3 separate regions of the Homo sapiens genome follow, and all the other regions are linked to region 2. Evidence: fine-mapped expression QTL. A gene starts in region 2. Each other region holds a variant in brackets. All regions are shown on one strand. Distances are between the middles of the regions.

Region 1 (5,674 bases), 68 kb before region 2:
ACATCAAGTGCTGCTCATAGGTCAAATGATGGAACCAGTAGGCCAATTGGCTCTGATGGCTCACTACTCCACCACTCCACTGCTACTTTCATCTCACCCTCAGGCCCTTTTTCTCCCCATCTCCCATGCCCACTGTGCTTTTGCCATACTGATCTTGATGCTCCTCAGGCAGACTCATGCCTCAGGGCCGTGCACTTGCAGTTTCCTCTGTCTAGCATGCTTTTTCCCCAGATGTCAACATGGCTCATTCTCTTCCTTTAGGTTTCTGCTCCAGTGCCATTTTATTAGCAAGGACTTCCCTGTCTAGCCTTGCCAAGAGAACACCACTGGCCACTGACCCTTGACTCTATTCCTATTATCTCACATATTAATGTCATAATATCATTATGACATATTTATAATGTGATAAACATCATAAATAGATAAAGCTATTTGGTAAGAATATCAGCTCAAGGAGGTCAGCAACTAAAATATTGCCTGGCATGTAGTGATTAATTGATAAGTATTTTGAATGCATATCAATTAATTGAATGCAATGAATAAAAACAGCTGATCAGAATATTTTTATGGTAACTAGGTACAGCCTAATTATTAATCTTCCAAGAAGAGTGAATACCCCAACCTTGACTAAAGGACATATTTTTAGAATCTGAAGAACAAACGTCTTGCAAACACTCTCCCCAGCCCTTTTATCTAACAGGAGGTAAATGGCTACCTGAGAGCATTCTTTTCAAAGTTGTAGGTTAGGCCAGGCATGGTGGCTCATGTAATCCCAGCACTTTGGGAGGCTGACGTGGGAGAATGGCTTGAGCCCAGGAGTTTGAGACCAGCCTGAGCAACATGGTGAAACCCTGTCTCTACTCTTGAAAAAAAAAGTAAAAAAACAAAGTTCTAGGGTAGATACTTTCCCATTTTTGAATACCCTGTAGTAACAACTCTTTCTAACGTGTTTAACTTCATTTTGAATGAATTAAAAAGTAAATGCTATATAAGCATTTGTTTGCACACAGATTAATACAAGAATCACACAGTACTAATGCCTACATATTACTTTAAATTTTATTCCATTTTAAATCTTAATTTGCCTATATTAACTATTTAATAAACTATGTGTATATGTAATTTTGAGACTTCGCTTTTCAACTAACACTTTTATTGATTTTAGAAATTTCAGCTTTTAAAAACCTGGCTTTGTAAGAGAAAGTATGCAAGGCAGTCAACCAATTGATGGTGGCGGTGGGACTTCTGGAGGGGTTGCTGCCATCATGCTGCCTGCAGTGGGGAGATGCCAGTGGTGGCATCAGGAGTGGCTTCAGGGGCAGCAGTGGCAGCAGTGGGCCCTTGTGCCCTGTGTCCCCAAGACGGCCAACTGTACCAACCCCACTCTCATACAGCTGGGCAGGACCCACTCCCAGGCCTGTAGTCTCCACCAGGGCCTCAGCCTTGCTCCCTGCTGCATCCCAGGAACCCATGAGCACCCAGCCACAGGCACAGCTGGGACTCACAGGGCTGCCCCTGGAGCATCAGGTTCATTTGTGCAGGAGTTGGCTGGGGTCGCTGCCCAACCTGCACCTCATCCACTGCTGCTACAGGGAAAATGTAGGAAGGAGGTGTGGCCAGGACTGTGCACTCCATGGAGCACACAGGAGCTGGGAACAAGCAAGAGCCCCGCCCTTTCCGAGTTGGCAGGGCAGAGCACCCCAGAGGCAACTGCAGCCACCCAAGCTGCAGCAGCAACCAGGGCACCCCTGTGCTCTCAGGAGCCAGAAGCAGGCAGGAGCCCCACCATCCCAGGCACAGCGGCAGCTGCCCAAGCTGTGGCTGCAGATCCAAGCATCTCTGCACTCTCAGAGGCCTGAGAAGGCATGCCCCCTTCCCCTGCAGGACAGGAAATGCCTGCTTCCACTGCCTGGCTTCTCCCTGCTGCCAGCACCTGCTCCAATCTTGGAGCAAAGGCGGGGCCAAGCTCAGGTGCTGTCACAGCCCAGCCAGGTGTGCACACACTCGGGGAAGCACTGACACGCCAGCCCCCTGCTGCCTCGGCCCCGTCTGGACTTAGGGCATTGACAAACACAGGAGGGAGGCTGAGTTGGGGGGCTGGAGAAAGCCCAGTGCTGGCCTAAAGGTGCCCCTTGGCATGAAAAGCCTGAGCGCCACGAACAGTGACAGGAGGCAGACAGGCTCCTGAGTAGAAGTGGGTGGGTACCTGGTGAAGCCGCACTTTCAAGCCGGGGAGGGCCTGAAGCCTGGGGGCTGGGCCGCCAGTCCTGAGGACCCAAGGGAGAACTTGTGGTGCTTTTTCTTGGGCCTGCCAATGGCTGCCCATGGACCAATCAGCACACACTTCCTCCTCTCTGAGACCTATAAAAACACCAGACTCAGCCAGAGTCAAAGAGAGGATGGAGAGATGATGGGGAGAAGACAGAGAGATGAAGGGATGACCTGCCTGCAGAGAGGATCCATCTACTCCAGGGCCTCCTCTCTGCTGAGAGCTGCAGAGATGACAGGACAACCTGCCTGCAGAGAGACACTACCTCTGTGCTGAGAGCTGAAGAGATGACAAGATGACCTGCCTGAAGAGAGGATTCACCCACTCCAGGGCCTCCTCTCTGCTGACAGCTGCAGAGACAACAGGATGACCTGCCTGCAGAGAGGTGCTACCTCTGTGCTGAGAACTGAAGAGGTGACAGGATGACCTGCCTGCAGAGAGGACCTACCCTCTCTGCTGAGAGCTGAACACTCCTCGGATTTACCTGACTACAGAGGGGAGCTACCCTCTCTGCGAGAGCTGACCACTCATTGTGACACCTTGGCTACAGAGAGGAGCTACCTACTGTGGTTCTCCTCTGAGCTGTTCTATTGCTTAATAAAACTCCTCTTCATCTC[G/A]CTCACCCTCCACTTGCCTGCATACCTCATTCTTCCTGGACATAGGACAAGAACTCAGGACCCACTGAATGGCAGGGCTAAAAGAGCTGTAACACAAACAGGGCTGAAACATGCCCCTGCTCGCCACATTGCAGGCAAAAAGAGGGAGAGAAGAGCTGCGGCCCTTTGGGGATCCCAGGCCTGGGTGTTCCCTGAGCCAGGGCTGTGACTCCCTCTTTGGAGCCCTGCAGCTTCTGGAGTCTGCAAGCTTCCAGGCCCCAGAGCATTTGCCAGTGCCAGCTATGGAAGCTGCTTGTGGTGCACCTAGTCCAGATGCAGCCTTGCAGGGAGCCAGCACCCACACCAGCACCTGGAGTTGCTTGCCCCACAGCAGCAGCTGGCATGCCCAGCTATGTGCGGTGGCTAGACCCCACGCTCACTCACATACCCTTCATTACTCCACGCCTGGCTTGCCCTTGGCAGGCATGGGATCCAGGCCAGTAGCATGAGCTGAGTGCAGCCTGCTGGGCCAACTGGGTGGAACAAGCCCAGCAGGCCAGAACAAAACTTGGGCAAAGGCACCACTGGCCACAGAGGTTTCCAGCAGGCGAAGCGACACCACAAGGATCCCGTAACACAATGAGCATTTGTAGCCATCATCCCAGTGTGTGGATTGAGTAGAAAGAGAAATAGCGTGCCCTCACTAGTGCTTCCATACACATAGAGACCACAGACTTTGGAACAGCATCCCTGGCATCTTTGTTTTGGAATGACATTGAAACACTGAACCAAGTCAAATAAGGGGACATTTGCAACTTTGCTGACTCATTTGTCAAGAATAAAAAAATACACAGGCAAATTTGAATGAAGGCCAGGCACAGTGGCTCACACCTGTAATCTCAAGACTTTGGGAGGACGAAATGGGAGAATCACTTGAGCCCAGGAGTTCAAGACCAGCCTGGACAATATATCGAGAGGCCTGTAATTCCAGATATTTGGGAGGCTGAGATGAGAGAATTGTTTGAACCCAGAAGGTTGAGGCTGCAGTGAGACTTGATCACGCCACTGAATTCCAGACTGGGTAACATTGTAAGACCCTGTCTCAAAAAATATATTAAAAAAGCAAATGGAGAGAATGTGAGGAGAATCATCTGTGAAGGAAACTGGAAGGTCTTTTCCAATTTCTAACCATACAGTGGGCCCTGAGAAAACACCTTTATAGAGAGAGAATGATTAGAACATTCTCTCTAATAATAATGATAGTCACATGAATGTCTGTAAATGTATAGGCAACAGGATAGTATCAATAAGTTGAATATGCCTTTAACAAGCTGAATGTACCTTATTCTTTAGCCTTCTTGAAAATAAAAGCCTAACCTAGTCATCTACCTGCATGGGGAGAATAGGGTGGAATTAGAAGTGCAGATAGGTTGTAATTAGAGGCTTTTAGTGGCTGACAATCACTGAGCATCTGTTGAAAGATAAGTGAATAGTAAAATTAGAAAATTACAGCCTCCATCAAGGAATGCAGCCCTCCCAACATCTCGAGACCCATTTCAGACTTATAACCTCCAGAGCTGTGAGATAATAAATTTGTGTTGTTTTAAGCTTCTAAATTTGTGGTTACTTGTTACAACAATAGGAAACTCATACAATAATTTTTATAGAAAGAATATACAATTAAATGCAAAAAGTACACTCATCTTAAGTGTACAGCTTGAAGAGTTGTCTTCCACATATTAATTGAGTGTAGCTAATTCATAGACCAAGTCATAGCACATCCCAGCAGCAGCCTATGATTCCCTCCTGCAACTGCCCAATTTGTACACTGCACCCCTAAAAGGAAAGAAAAATTCATACATTCAAAATACTTCTCACACCAAATGTGTGGAGTTTACCTCACATTAAGCAATTCTCCAACTCTCCAGATACCAAGTGGGTGTACTACAATTTACTCATGACACTAACTACCCAGAGTTAGTGCAGACCCCATAGGTTGAGGACTCAGCCTCGCAAGGCTGAAACCAAATTTAGACACCAGTCAGTAGTCCCAAACTGTGACCTGTCCATCTGGCTAACTAGCTATCCATTGGGGGTTGCCATGACCTTCTCTTTAGGTTTGATAATTTGCTAGAATGGCTCACAGGACTCAAGAAAGTGCTTTACTTACAATTAGCAGTTTATTTTAAAGGATACCACTTAAGATCAGCCAGATGAAGAGATACACAGGACAAAGTATGAGGGTGGAGCTGAGAGGTTCCGTCCTGCTCCACATGCTGCACCCTCCCAGCAGGTCTGTGTTTCCACCAACCTGAAGTCCTCCAAGTCCTGTCAGTTAGGGGGTTTATGGAGTTTCTATTCGGTAGGCATGATTGACTAATTAGTGGTCCCCAACCTTTTTGGCACCAGGGACCAGTTTCATGGAAGACAATTTTTCCACAGATGGGGGGTGTGGTTTCAGGACGATTCAAGCACATTACATTTATCATTCAATTCTCATAAGGATGACGCAACCTAGATCCCTTGCATACTCGGTTCACAATAGGATTCACACTCCTACGAGAATCTAATGCTGCTGCTGATCTGACAGGAGGCGGAGCTCAGGCGGGAATCCTTGCTCACCCACTGCTCGCCTCCTGCTTTGCAGTCCAGTTCCTAACAGGCCATAGACTGGTACTGGTCCACAGCCTGGGGGTTGGGGAACCCTGGACTAAATCATGGGCCATTGGTGACTGAGCTCAATCTCCAGCCCTTCTCCCCTCTCCAGAGGTTGGGGGAGGGAGGGAGTGCTGAAAGTTCCAACCCTGTA
Region 2 (5,674 bases):
TTCTTGACATATACAGTTTTTAACCCACACGTGAGGTAACTGAAGGAAACTTAATGTCTAAAGTAGTTAAGAACTTTAATACCTTCTCAGGAAACTCTGTCTTTAGGTTTAGTTCTGCAGCTGAAAAAGGGAATATTTCTGGACCAAACATTTCTTTAAAATATCAAATGAGACGCTGGAAGCTATGTGAGAGTGGAGGGTTGGAGAAGGGAGAGGATCAGAAAAAATAACTATTGGATACTAGGCATAGTACTTAGGTAACAAAATGATCTGTACAACAAACGCCTGTCACAGGAGTTTACCTATATAACAAGCCTGTACCTATACTCCTGAACCTAAAATTAAAGTTTTAGAAGAATAAAAAAAAAAAAGAGAATCTTAATGCATTATATCAGAGTGTTCAAAAGGTCCCAGAGAAAAATGCAGTAATTATGGAAGATGTAACTTGTAAACATGAAAATTATGGAAGATATAAATTGTAAAACTATCAATACAAAATTTCACTATTTAATTCCAGGCACATTTTCTAGATTGGCTTTTACAATCTGAGAGAACTACTCTCACTAATTAAAAACTATTTATTAATTTAAATCCACATGCTTGACAACCCTGACTCTATCATCCCCAATTTTTAGTGAGACAGCTTCACTTATTAGAAATTTAGTCTTCATATTTTTGTAATTTAGGGAGATTAAAATATGAGCATACAAACTTTATAACAGCAATTTTCATTGCAAGATGTTTTTAATTGTTTAAAAAAACAAACAAAAACTTGCAGAAATGTTCCTATTCACTTGCTCTTCTCAGGATACTAGCACAAGTGATCAGGAAAGGAATAAGTCAATATTAATTATTACCAGGTCTCGCCAATTATTATTGGTGCCTATTGCAAGTAATCTTTTACACTTCTATGTATAAGTGTGTCTTTTCCAAAGGATGTTTCGAAGCACAGCTGGCTACAGAGATTAGCAGCTGAGGGCCCACTTATTCTCCAGTACCAACTCATAGCTCTCACCATCACAAATACACTACAAATCCTAACTTGGAATAAATCTGCTTTAAGAAAATGCTGGAGTAATGAACAAAGTTCAGTGCCATGAATCAGAAACCTAAGCATCAGAGAAGGAGTGGCTGGTCACAACTGTCATAGCCATGTGACTTGGGGCAATCACCGAGCCTTCTGGGTCTGTCTCCTCTTCTGCAAATGAAGGAATTAGGCCAGATGACCTAGGGTCCCTCCAGCCTGAAGTCAAAATGGAAGCAGGCAGCAATGTGTGCTATTTAACCCCCCTTACAGGTAGAACATTGTAGGTTAAAACGTGAAACAAATGAGTAGCCTAAAACAGACTCACATTCACTGTTCATTCAACTAAAAAGCTAAGCACCTGAAGGAAGGCACTACGTTCAGCTCATTTCTGAAACAATCCACTCACTAAGGTTAGTGTGAGCATATCTGTGTATATAGGTGTTGCCCACAGGACACCAAGTCCTATGTGTGAATTCACATCCCGGGGAGCTTTCACAACCACACAGCACACACTCAGCATCCGAAGAAAGACAAACAGCACTAAGAAAATTCAATTTTCATGATGCACACCAGGGAGGCTAAGCCTTTTTCAGTACCCTAATCTTTAAAATGGTGCATCTACCACCTCGATGCCACATTATGCAAATTTACTAAGAATTGTGAGTGAAGAGATTTCAGCCCAATTAAAAAAAGATAAGGTTTTTTTTAAACGTGTCAATTCCAAGAAGATGGCCCAAGAAATAAGCCGTAATTACTCTATCATTATATCAACTCTTTAATCACTTTTTTCCCCTTGCCTCCCAAAAAAAGAACTGAGGGGAAGTGGAATTTAAATAAAAAATGAATAGTCCCTCCAAGAAACCTCCATAGAAGAGGAGTATATCTTCTGACAGAACACATCTGTGTGCCTCTTAAAAAGGATATTCTAAATCTGGAGGGAGTTAGCTTAGATCCCCACCTTCCAGGCCCTGCCATCTGGAATTCTCAGACCCGTAATATCAAACTGTAAGGAAGCCGGGGCTGGATGAGTATCCCCACTCCCCTAACCCCACTCCAACATTCTATGTGCTACCACGCTCCCCTATTTCAACCCAACTGGTTGAACAGGAAACATTCCTAAGATGAGCAGGTAGCCGGTGGAGCTGAACCCAAGTCTCCCCAGCCCATGTCCACTGACACCCTGGTAAGTGGCACCTTCGCTCACCTTCTTCACAAGGTAGCCCTCTCTGATCCGCTTTGGTTCCATGCTGGCTGGACAGGCAGATGCAAAGGTCACTCTCAGGCAACTCCTCTCAGCAGCTGGGCCTCCTCTGCATGCTGAGGTGGCTGTGGGCCGCCTTTTCTACAGCAGGTCGCTTTCACAATTTCCCTTCTGCTGGCGGTCGCATGATCACATCCTCTTCCCCTCACTGGGTTGGAAGATCAGAATAAGGAACTGCAGAGTAAACCACCCATTCCTTGCTAATGCTGGAGACTTATTAAAACCACAGTTGGGTTGAATATTTACCTAAGGGAAATTCTTACTACCATACAGAAAATCCCTCTTTTAAAGAGAAAAAGAAGTGATGAAAGGAAGAGGAAGATGAACAAGAAAAACTTGTTGGTGAAAATTGTCCTGAGTAAGGATTATTCTTGAGATCCTGGAAATGCCCAATAAAAATGCCAAGAAATTCAGAACCATCTGGTTAGCATAACAAAGTTAACTACTAAATGAATGCCTACTTCTCTCTATGCCAAGCCCTGTATCAAGTGTTTCTCAGCCTACTTATTTTAAACTAAATTAGTCTGCACATCGGCCAGGCATGGTAGCTCACGCCTGTACTCCCAGCACTTTGGGAGGCCAAGGCAGATGGATCACCTGGGGTCAGGAGTTCAAGACCAGCCTGGCCAACATGGTGAAACCTTGTCTCTACTAAAAATACAAAAATTAGCCGGGCATGGTGGCGTGTGCCTGTAGTCCCAGCTACTCGGGAGGCTGAGGCAGCAGAATCACTTGAACCTGGGAGGCGGAGGTTGCAGTGAGCCGAGATTGGTCCACTGCACTCCAGCCTGGGCGACAGAGAAAGACTTCATCTCAAAACAAACAACAACAAAAATGAGTCCACACATCAAACCCATAGGGAAAGTATATTATTTTCCTTATCTTAGAGTAAGGAAACTCAGGCTCAGAGAAGAAAAGTTGTCTCAAGTTGACGCTGCAGGTCACAGGGGAAAGCAGAAGAACCAGGGAGGGATGTGCTAGGGTGCCACTGCCTCACATCAGGCATGAGAACAGGTGTTCCACGTTGAGTGCTGATCTCACAGTCAGCCTGTAAAAAGAAGTCCATCATCAAACAGGTTTTTGAGAAACTTTACAAAATAATCCCAGGTTGGCAACTCCTCTAAATGATGAACAAATTAAAGACCTTCGCCCCGCCAAAGTACTACAGTAAAGAATCCTATAATGGTGTTTTCCAAACTTACTTCGCCATAGCATTCTTTTTTGAACAATTTATGTTAACTTTTTTTGTCATAAATTGAATTAGATCTCCCAAAAAAGAAGTCCTAACCCTTAGCACTTCAGAATGCATCCTTATTTGGAAATAGGGTCATTGTAGATATAATTAGTTAAGATGAGGTCATACTGAAACAAGTGGGCCCTTAATCCAATGTGACTGGTGTCCTTATAAGAAAAGGGCACACAGAAAACAGCCATGTGACAACAGAGTGATGCATTTACAAGCCAAGGAACGCCAAGGATGGCCAGCAACCCCCAGAAGCTGGAAGAGGCACGCAACAATTCTCTCCTAGAGTTGCTATAGAGAACATGGTGCTGACGACACCTTGATTTCAGACTTACGGCCTCCAGAACTGTAAGACAATAAATTTCCATTGTTTTAAGCCACCAGTTTGTGGTACTTTGTTATGGCAGCCCCAGGAAACCAATATAATCCTGAAAAACGAATATTCCATAGAATAAACTTAGAGACCCGTTAATCTGACCATGTGAAAATGAGCAAGTTTGTTATTACTTTGTGCCTCAGTTTTCTCATCTGTAATACGGGGATAATAACACCTATCCAATGAGGTCATTCTGAAGATTAAATGAGATAGACATGGAAGTATTTAGAAGAGTGTCTGAAACATAACTAGTATCCATAAATATTAGTTGTTCTTCATCTTCAAGGCAAATCTCCGTTATCCTAGAGCTGATCCTTTTCAATGATAAGTTCAACAGAGATGATGAAAGCAATCGTAGGACTAGATTTTCCTCATTACACCCGTCAGTGTTCTTTCACTGCAATCAACAGATAACAACTCTGGCTAATAGAGGCAAATAGGAATTTACTGGAAGAGAATGGAGTGGCCCACAGACTGCAGGAAAAATGAAGACTGGGGTCTTTGAAAGGACAGGAATCAGGGCAGTTGTGGGGTTCCAGGAAGCAAGACACCAAGATGAAAGAATGCCAGTGGTTTTCAGACTCTGCAGTAGTCTCCAGGGATCAGGCCTCTGATTGGCCTAACTTGGCCTAGTGCTTCTCTCTCCGGTATCTGAAGGGGGAACATGTGAACCGACAGCCCCAGCAGGACCATGCTCAATGGGAGAAGGGAGGTGTCCCCTAAAGTAAAATCAAGATGCTATTAACAATAGATGAGCGATGGCTCCGAGAAAGGCAAAACTGACAGACGTCCACGAGGGCATCTGAGGAGCCAGGAAAGTTAGGGGAAAGAAGAAGTTCTGTTCTTGGGGTTTTCTGAGAGCTTCCTGATTCCCTCTCCTCTTCCCTCCAGCTGTGTTTCTAGCTAACAGTCACTGCCCCTGTATTTCTCACTTTTCATTTTATGCTAATATCCATTACTTAAAATCGTTGATGGTTTCTTTTCAGTTTCTCATTGCACCAAAATTAATTAGAAATTGTTATAAAGTGTTGGGGGCTGAGAGTAGAGGGATCAACGTTTGATGTCACCTGAGCAAAACAGGAACAAATAAAAGGGTAATTTTCTGTATCTGCACTCAAACAAGTATTTTGCTATGTCTGTATAGTCAATGGAAACCACTCTTAGATTTACCAAGTCTGATTTCATAGTTAAATATATCTCCTTTTGTTTAACTGACCAAGTGACTTCTAATTTGGAATGTCTTCACTGTTTGTCCTAGCATGATCAGAAGGCTTTAAAGAACCCTCACTCAGAAACCTCATATTATTTTTGGATGCCTCCGGTGTAAAAGCACCCCCTGCGTTCCGAATAATTCATTTCAAGAAACATGGTATTAAGTGTTTAGTATGTACCAGGCGCCTGAATAGGTGCAGGGGTAAAAATGTCTTGACACCAAGGAACCTCCGGCATTTGTGAATCTGCTGAACATCGCCATTGATGGACTGGATGCTGCCGCCTTTGCCCCTCCCCCTCCTGCCACGTGTCATCGCGCCTACTTAGCGACACCTAGTGGTCAGTAAAGAGAACTATCTGAATCAATGACGCCTTTCAGGACTTCTCTCAACAGAGTTTGACCAAGTTTTCTTCTGCTGTGTCAGATCCCTCTCCCAGATCAGATCATTAGAACCTCCTCCAGTATCTTATGTATATGTGTCTAGAATGACTTTTTTTTGAGACAGAGTCTTGCTCTGTCGCCCAGGCTGGAGTGCAATGGCCTGATCTTGGCTC
Region 3 (5,674 bases), 820 kb before region 2:
ATCTATAAAAGACAAGGAAATAAATTCTCCTCTAGAGTCTCCAAAAGGAAAACAGCTCTGCCAACACCTTGATTTTAGTCTAGTGAGACCCGTTTGGGGCTTATGACATCTGGAACTGTAAGATAATAGATTCGTGTTGATTAAACCTTTAAGTTTCTGGTAATTCATTACAGCGACAAGAGGAAATTAATACAGTCCTTCTCACTCCCTGATATATTCTATGTTAATTTGCTGATTGTCTGTGCCCCCTGGAATGCCAGCTCCATGAAAGCAGGGGTATTGATGGTTTTGTTCACTTCTGTCTGCCTATCCCTTAGGACAACATCTGGTGCTCAATATATATTTGTTGGAGGAATGAATGTAACTAAGTGGTAGGTGCTTCCATGAGTGTTCTCTAATTGAATTGTCCCAGCAGTCCCAGAGGGCTGTGGAGAGGAAATGGAGGGTCAAAGAGAGATCAAGTAACTTGCCCAAAGGCAGATGGTTTATAAACCAGAGTTGAGATTGGAATCCATGTCTGTCTAATTCCAAATCACATATGCTTTCTATTACACCAATTGCAGATTCTTCCTCATGCAGATCTTCTGGTGAAAGCGCTTTAATTTAGATCCTTTAGAACATAGGGTTTCTCAGCTGTGGGTTGCAACCCTTTAAGCCCTTATGAAATCAATTTTGTATGGGACCAGAACTTTTAAGAAATAGAATAGAAGAGAAAATAGTAATTGCACATGGTGAGGATAAGCATTATTTTGTGAAAAATTTATCTCAGTTAAGTGTGTATGGGTGTGTGTATGACTGTGTGTGCACAAACTGGGCCAAAATGTAAAATGTATTTCCTACCCAAGCCTTAGGAACGTTTGAAAATCCTGATCTTGCAGGGGTCTTTGAATGACAGTGCTGGGAAGGCTGGAGGAGTCTAAAGAGTTTAAGTTCCTGGACACAAAGCATTTATATAGGGGCAGTGTTAAGAAGCATCTCAAATATTTCATGTTCTGAAATGATTTTCTGGTGGATTATATACACATATAAAATTGTGTTCTTTAATCTTTATAAACTGTTGTTTGAGTTCTTGTGGGTTTAACTTTGTCTTGTGGGTTAAACTTTGTCTTGCCAAGTGTAGTGTTTCTCATCTATTTTGGCAAGGAATTTACAAACGCCTTGAAAAATATTTTGAAATGATTTTAGAATGCTGGATAGAACTGCTGCTGTGTGCTGCATGGTTTTCTGTATTAAGCCGTTCCAATCACCAGCTAAATGTTTTCCTTTAAGGTTCTTTTGGATAAGCATTTATATTTCAGGATGTAACCAGGTGGGTTTCCTGGATGAATGCCTCTTTTTTCTTTCCCCTTCGTTTTCAGAAGGAGAGGACTCCCAGCATTTGGGTTTGTAAATCAGCCCACCCACAGAGCTGTGTGTGCTAATCACCCAACTCTGTGACAAATGGGCAATGAGATGGGGCAGAAAGAAGAACACTGGGCTGTTGAAGGAACACATTAATTAACTCAGCAGAAATTTAAAGTTACATGCATAGCAAAAGACCAGAAACCACCTAGATGTATAATACCAGGAGAATGAGTAGAAAATGATGTTTCTTTGTGGCAACAGATCACCCTACAGTGTAGTGTTTAAGCACAAAGTGACTGAAGCCAGCCTGCCCCAGTTTGTACTGTGGGTCTCCTTTTCACCAGCTCTATGGGTTAGATGAGTAGTTTCATCTCCCTAAGCCTTACTTTTCTCATATTTAAAGTGGAGATGATAATACTGTCTACTCTACAGACTTGCTATAAGACTTAAAATTAAATATTGAAGTTAGGTACTTGCCTCATAAAAGGTATTCATTAAATGTTACCTATGATCATAGTAAAGTCATTAAAATGATCATTTGGGAGGCTCTGTAGAGAGATGGAAAAGAATGTAATACAGAGTGTAGGAATCCAGCAATTTGAACTTTGTAAGCATGCATCTGTCCATCTTCTATTCTGTGCTTCTCCAAGACTATTTTCCTCTTACCCCCAAGCCACAGTTTTTATTCCTTCTGCCCCAATCACTCCACCCAAATTGCTCTTGCTAAGGCCACCCACGGCATCCCGACTGCCAAATGCCTTGACACTCATTTTGCTTGGTTCTTTGGGGAGATCCGCTGTGCTGGGCCTCTCCCCTGCACACTCTCCCTCAGTCTCTGTGCCACGAGCTTCTACCTGCTCCCTCCGACCTCTCTGCCAAGTCCTTTTCAGCTTCTTCTGCTCCTCCCCCTCTGCCTACACCTGACATGGTGGCCTTCATTTGGCACCTCTATTCTCATCTCTCAGCTGAGTGCTCTCATCTAGTCTCATGGGTCCAACTTCCACCTATCTGCCGGCAACTCAAAAATTCTATACTCAGCCCAGTCCTCTCTTGAGCTCCAGATCTGGGTATCTATTTACCTATTAAATCTTAATTGTAATGTGGATGTATCATATCACATCACAGCTATCAAAAAGTCAAACATTATAAACTGAACTAACTCTTCTCCCCAAACCTGCTCCTCCTTTTGCACACCCTGCCTTGATTCATGGCACCACCAATCTCTCCAGATGGGCACACTGGGTACCAGGAATCATTCTAACCTCCCTTCTCTCTGCCACCTGCTCATGTCCAACATCAACCGTGTCTCGTTAATGTTCTCTCTGTAGCAGCTCTGCTGCCGCCTCTTCCCATCCACCCCTGACCCACCACCTCCACAGCTCCTGCCTGGGCCCAGGCCCTCATCATCTGTCACTCATTCTGGGAATAGTTTCCTGATTGGCCTTTCATCTCCAGGGTTCCTGTCCTCTCTCCTATTGATTAATAAAGAATTTTA[C/T]TGTGAGCCCAAATGGATGCACTGCAGTCAATAAAATGAACCATGAAACATCTTACTGGCCAGTGTGAATTTGGGTAAGTTACCTAACCCCTCTGTGCTCTGGTTTTGCATTTGTAGTTTCTACTGATCTGGGTGTCTATTTACCGATGGATAAGTACTTTCTACTTTCAAGGGCTGTTATCAATAATAAAGGCATTAGTGCATAGAAAGCGCTGCCCGACTTGCAGGGCATGCTTGATCCGGGTGAGCTGCTGTCATTGGGCTCTTCTGGCCAAGGCGAGATTAGCTAGTTCCAGGTGTATCCTTAGCATTCTGAGTTCTGATTGTCCCACAAATGAACCTAAACTCTCCAGTCTGTGGCATAGAAAACAATCCAGGCAATCAATACAACCTATAACCTCTTTCTACTCCTACAACAGGTAGTTTTTATGCAAGAGCTTTAGAAAAACAGTGTTTGCAACCAAGAAGTAAGCTTTAGAAAAAACAGTGTTTACAACCAAAATCAGAATAAAAAATAACTCTCAAAATTCAATGAGCACTGCATGACAAAGGCTCTTGGAACCTTGATTTTTCTGAATGTAGGCAGAAGTCTGTCATTTAAAGACAGTAGTAGTGGGCTCGTTAATAACAACCCTTTGGGGCTAGATGTGCCATAGAAGAGTCTTCTAAACAGTCTCTGGGCTTCACCTAAAGTCTTAGAGGATCCTTCTGAGTTGCCTCCGCTTTATCTATCTCAGACTTGGATGTCTGTCATGCACAAACCTCTCCACAGCATGCACTTAAGACACTGGTCCTCACTCCCTGGCAAAATGCCCAACTGCTTCTGTGAAGCTAGGACAAAGATTTATCCACAAGCCTCAAGCCCTCTGGCAGATTGTATTAGCTGACATTTATAAATAGCTTTCTTTCATTTGAAGTTGACAAATTTTGACTATAAAATGAGAAATTTACCAATTCCATGCTCCCAAACTGTATCTTAGCCACAGAAAATACCTGCCAATTCACAAAGGCAAAGTGGAAGTTCTATGTAAACTCTAGCTTTGGTTTCTTTCTAAGCAATAAGACTGTGCTGGGAATGATTATGCAGCCAGCATTCATAGCATTCTGGAGGTAGGGAGCCGGGCACGGTGGCACATGCCTATAATCCCAACACTCTGAGAGGCTGAGGTGGGAGGATCACTTGAGAGCAGCTTGGACAACACAGTGAGATCCCCATGTTTACAAAAAATTAAAAAAATTAGCTGGGTGTGATGGCTTATATCTGTAGTCCCAGCTACTTGGGAGACTGAGGTAGGAGAATCCCTTGAACCTAGGTTGATGCTACAGTGAGCTATATGATCGCACCACTGCACTACAGCCTGGGCGACAGAACAAGACCCTATTTTTAAATCAAACAAACAAAAAACCCAAAGCACCCTGGGTCATCAGCTTTTGTGGTGGGGTTTCCTCTTTTTTTTTTTTTTTTTTTTTTTTTTTGCCAGGCAGCAGTTGTATCTTTTCTTCTGGTTTGTCTGCCTTAGCCAGCTGGAAGACAGTCAGAGATTGAGAATTCTGAGAGTAGTTCAACTTATAAGGCCACTATAAACTGACACCTGACTTTTTACACTTTGAAATACATGGTAGGCCAGGTGCGGTGGCTTATGCCTGTAATCCTAGCACTATGGGCGGCCGAGGCGGTCAGATCAAGAGGTCAAGAGATTGAGATCATCCTGGCCAACATGATGAAACCCAGTCTGTACCAAAAAAAATACAAAAATTAGCTGGATGTGGTGGCACCCGCCTGTAGTCCCAGCTACTCGGGAGGCTGAGGCAGGAGAATCACTTGAACCTGGGAGGTGGAGGTTGTAGTGAGCTGAGATTGCGCCACTGCACTCCAGCCTGGTGACAGAGTGAGACTCTGTCTCAAAAAAAAAAAAAAAAAAAAAGAAATACATGATAAATAGTGTGACCCAGCTTTCCCCCAAAGGAAATAAATTAATGGATTTAACGGATAACGTCAGAAACTTTCCCTACACACAGACACACATGCACTCATGAGTGTGTGCATGCCATGCATAGGATAGATTTTGTTGCGCTTTTTTTTTTCTTCTTTTGGTTTTTAAGAAAATTTGCCCATATAGCTGGGCATGACTTCACTTGTCTGAAATGGTCAGCTCCAATTTAATGAGAAGCACGGGGTATTGTAAATCCGGGGGTGAAAACCAAGCAAAGGAAAATGCAGGCTAAATATCAGGGAAAATTTCCCGATCATGAGTCTGGAATGAGGAAGGGGGGAAGTGTGGTTGGTGTGGTTGGTGCCTTAAATTAGACGGGGAGATGGTGGGTGGAGAAGAGCCCACTGTGGACTTCTTCCCTCCGTGTGTTCTCTCTGGGTTTGCTTGGCAAATGTGCTCACCTGCTTCTCAAAAACCCCATTTCATGTAAAGCAATGGGTCTAATGCAATGCAATTCAGTAAGTACACGATTCTGGCTCCTTTCACTGGGGAGCCATGAGTCTTTCCAATACCTGCTGACAGTTTTGTGTGAGGTAGAGCTGTTGTTCTCCTTGCTTATAGCAGAGGTACAAGGCAGGCAGCGAGTGGATGGGTCACTCTCCCTGACCTGCCGGCCCCCATCCATTCTCTGCCTGCCTTCTCCATGCCTTGGAAGCCTGCCTCTGGATCACCTAGCTGCCCTTTGGTCTTGGTCTGTAAAGAGCCAAGGATTTGCAGGGCAAGAGGCAACATTATATAGGTACTTATATAACCTTTTAAAAATGTAAAAACCATTCTTTGTTTGCAGATCATATAAAAACAGGTGGATTTAGATTGTCAACTAAAGAAACAGTTCCTGTCG

What was found. PIP is the estimated chance that this variant, and not a neighbour inherited with it, causes the effect.
Region 1: its variant is the best candidate, but not a certain one, in a credible set for the expression of PLEK in whole blood (TOPMed, PIP 0.80).
Region 3: its variant is the best candidate, but not a certain one, in a credible set for the expression of PLEK in whole blood (INTERVAL, PIP 0.61).

What each region holds. Positions count from the first base shown.
Region 1 is chr2:68,429,472-68,435,145 of GRCh38, reverse strand. No RefSeq gene overlaps it. Among named protein-coding and RNA genes, the nearest start is that of FBXO48, 35 kb to the left of the region's middle. The variant G/A (reference allele first, on the strand shown) is at 2,887.
Region 2 is chr2:68,361,951-68,367,624 of GRCh38, reverse strand. It overlaps PLEK (pleckstrin), which reads right to left and starts at 2,343. Exons shown (of 9, transcript NM_002664.3): 1 at 2,232-2,343. The coding sequence starts at 2,273. It overlaps LOC101927723 (a long non-coding RNA gene), which reads left to right and starts at 1,221. Exons shown (of 2, transcript NR_187652.1): 1 at 1,221-2,210; 2 at 5,166-5,674. RefSeq lists enhancers at 2,304-2,383, 5,315-5,384.
Region 3 is chr2:69,186,676-69,192,349 of GRCh38, reverse strand. The region is part of intron 16 of ANTXR1 (ANTXR cell adhesion molecule 1); the gene reads right to left. Among named protein-coding and RNA genes, the nearest start is that of MIR3126, 86 kb to the right of the region's middle. The variant C/T (reference allele first, on the strand shown) is at 2,840.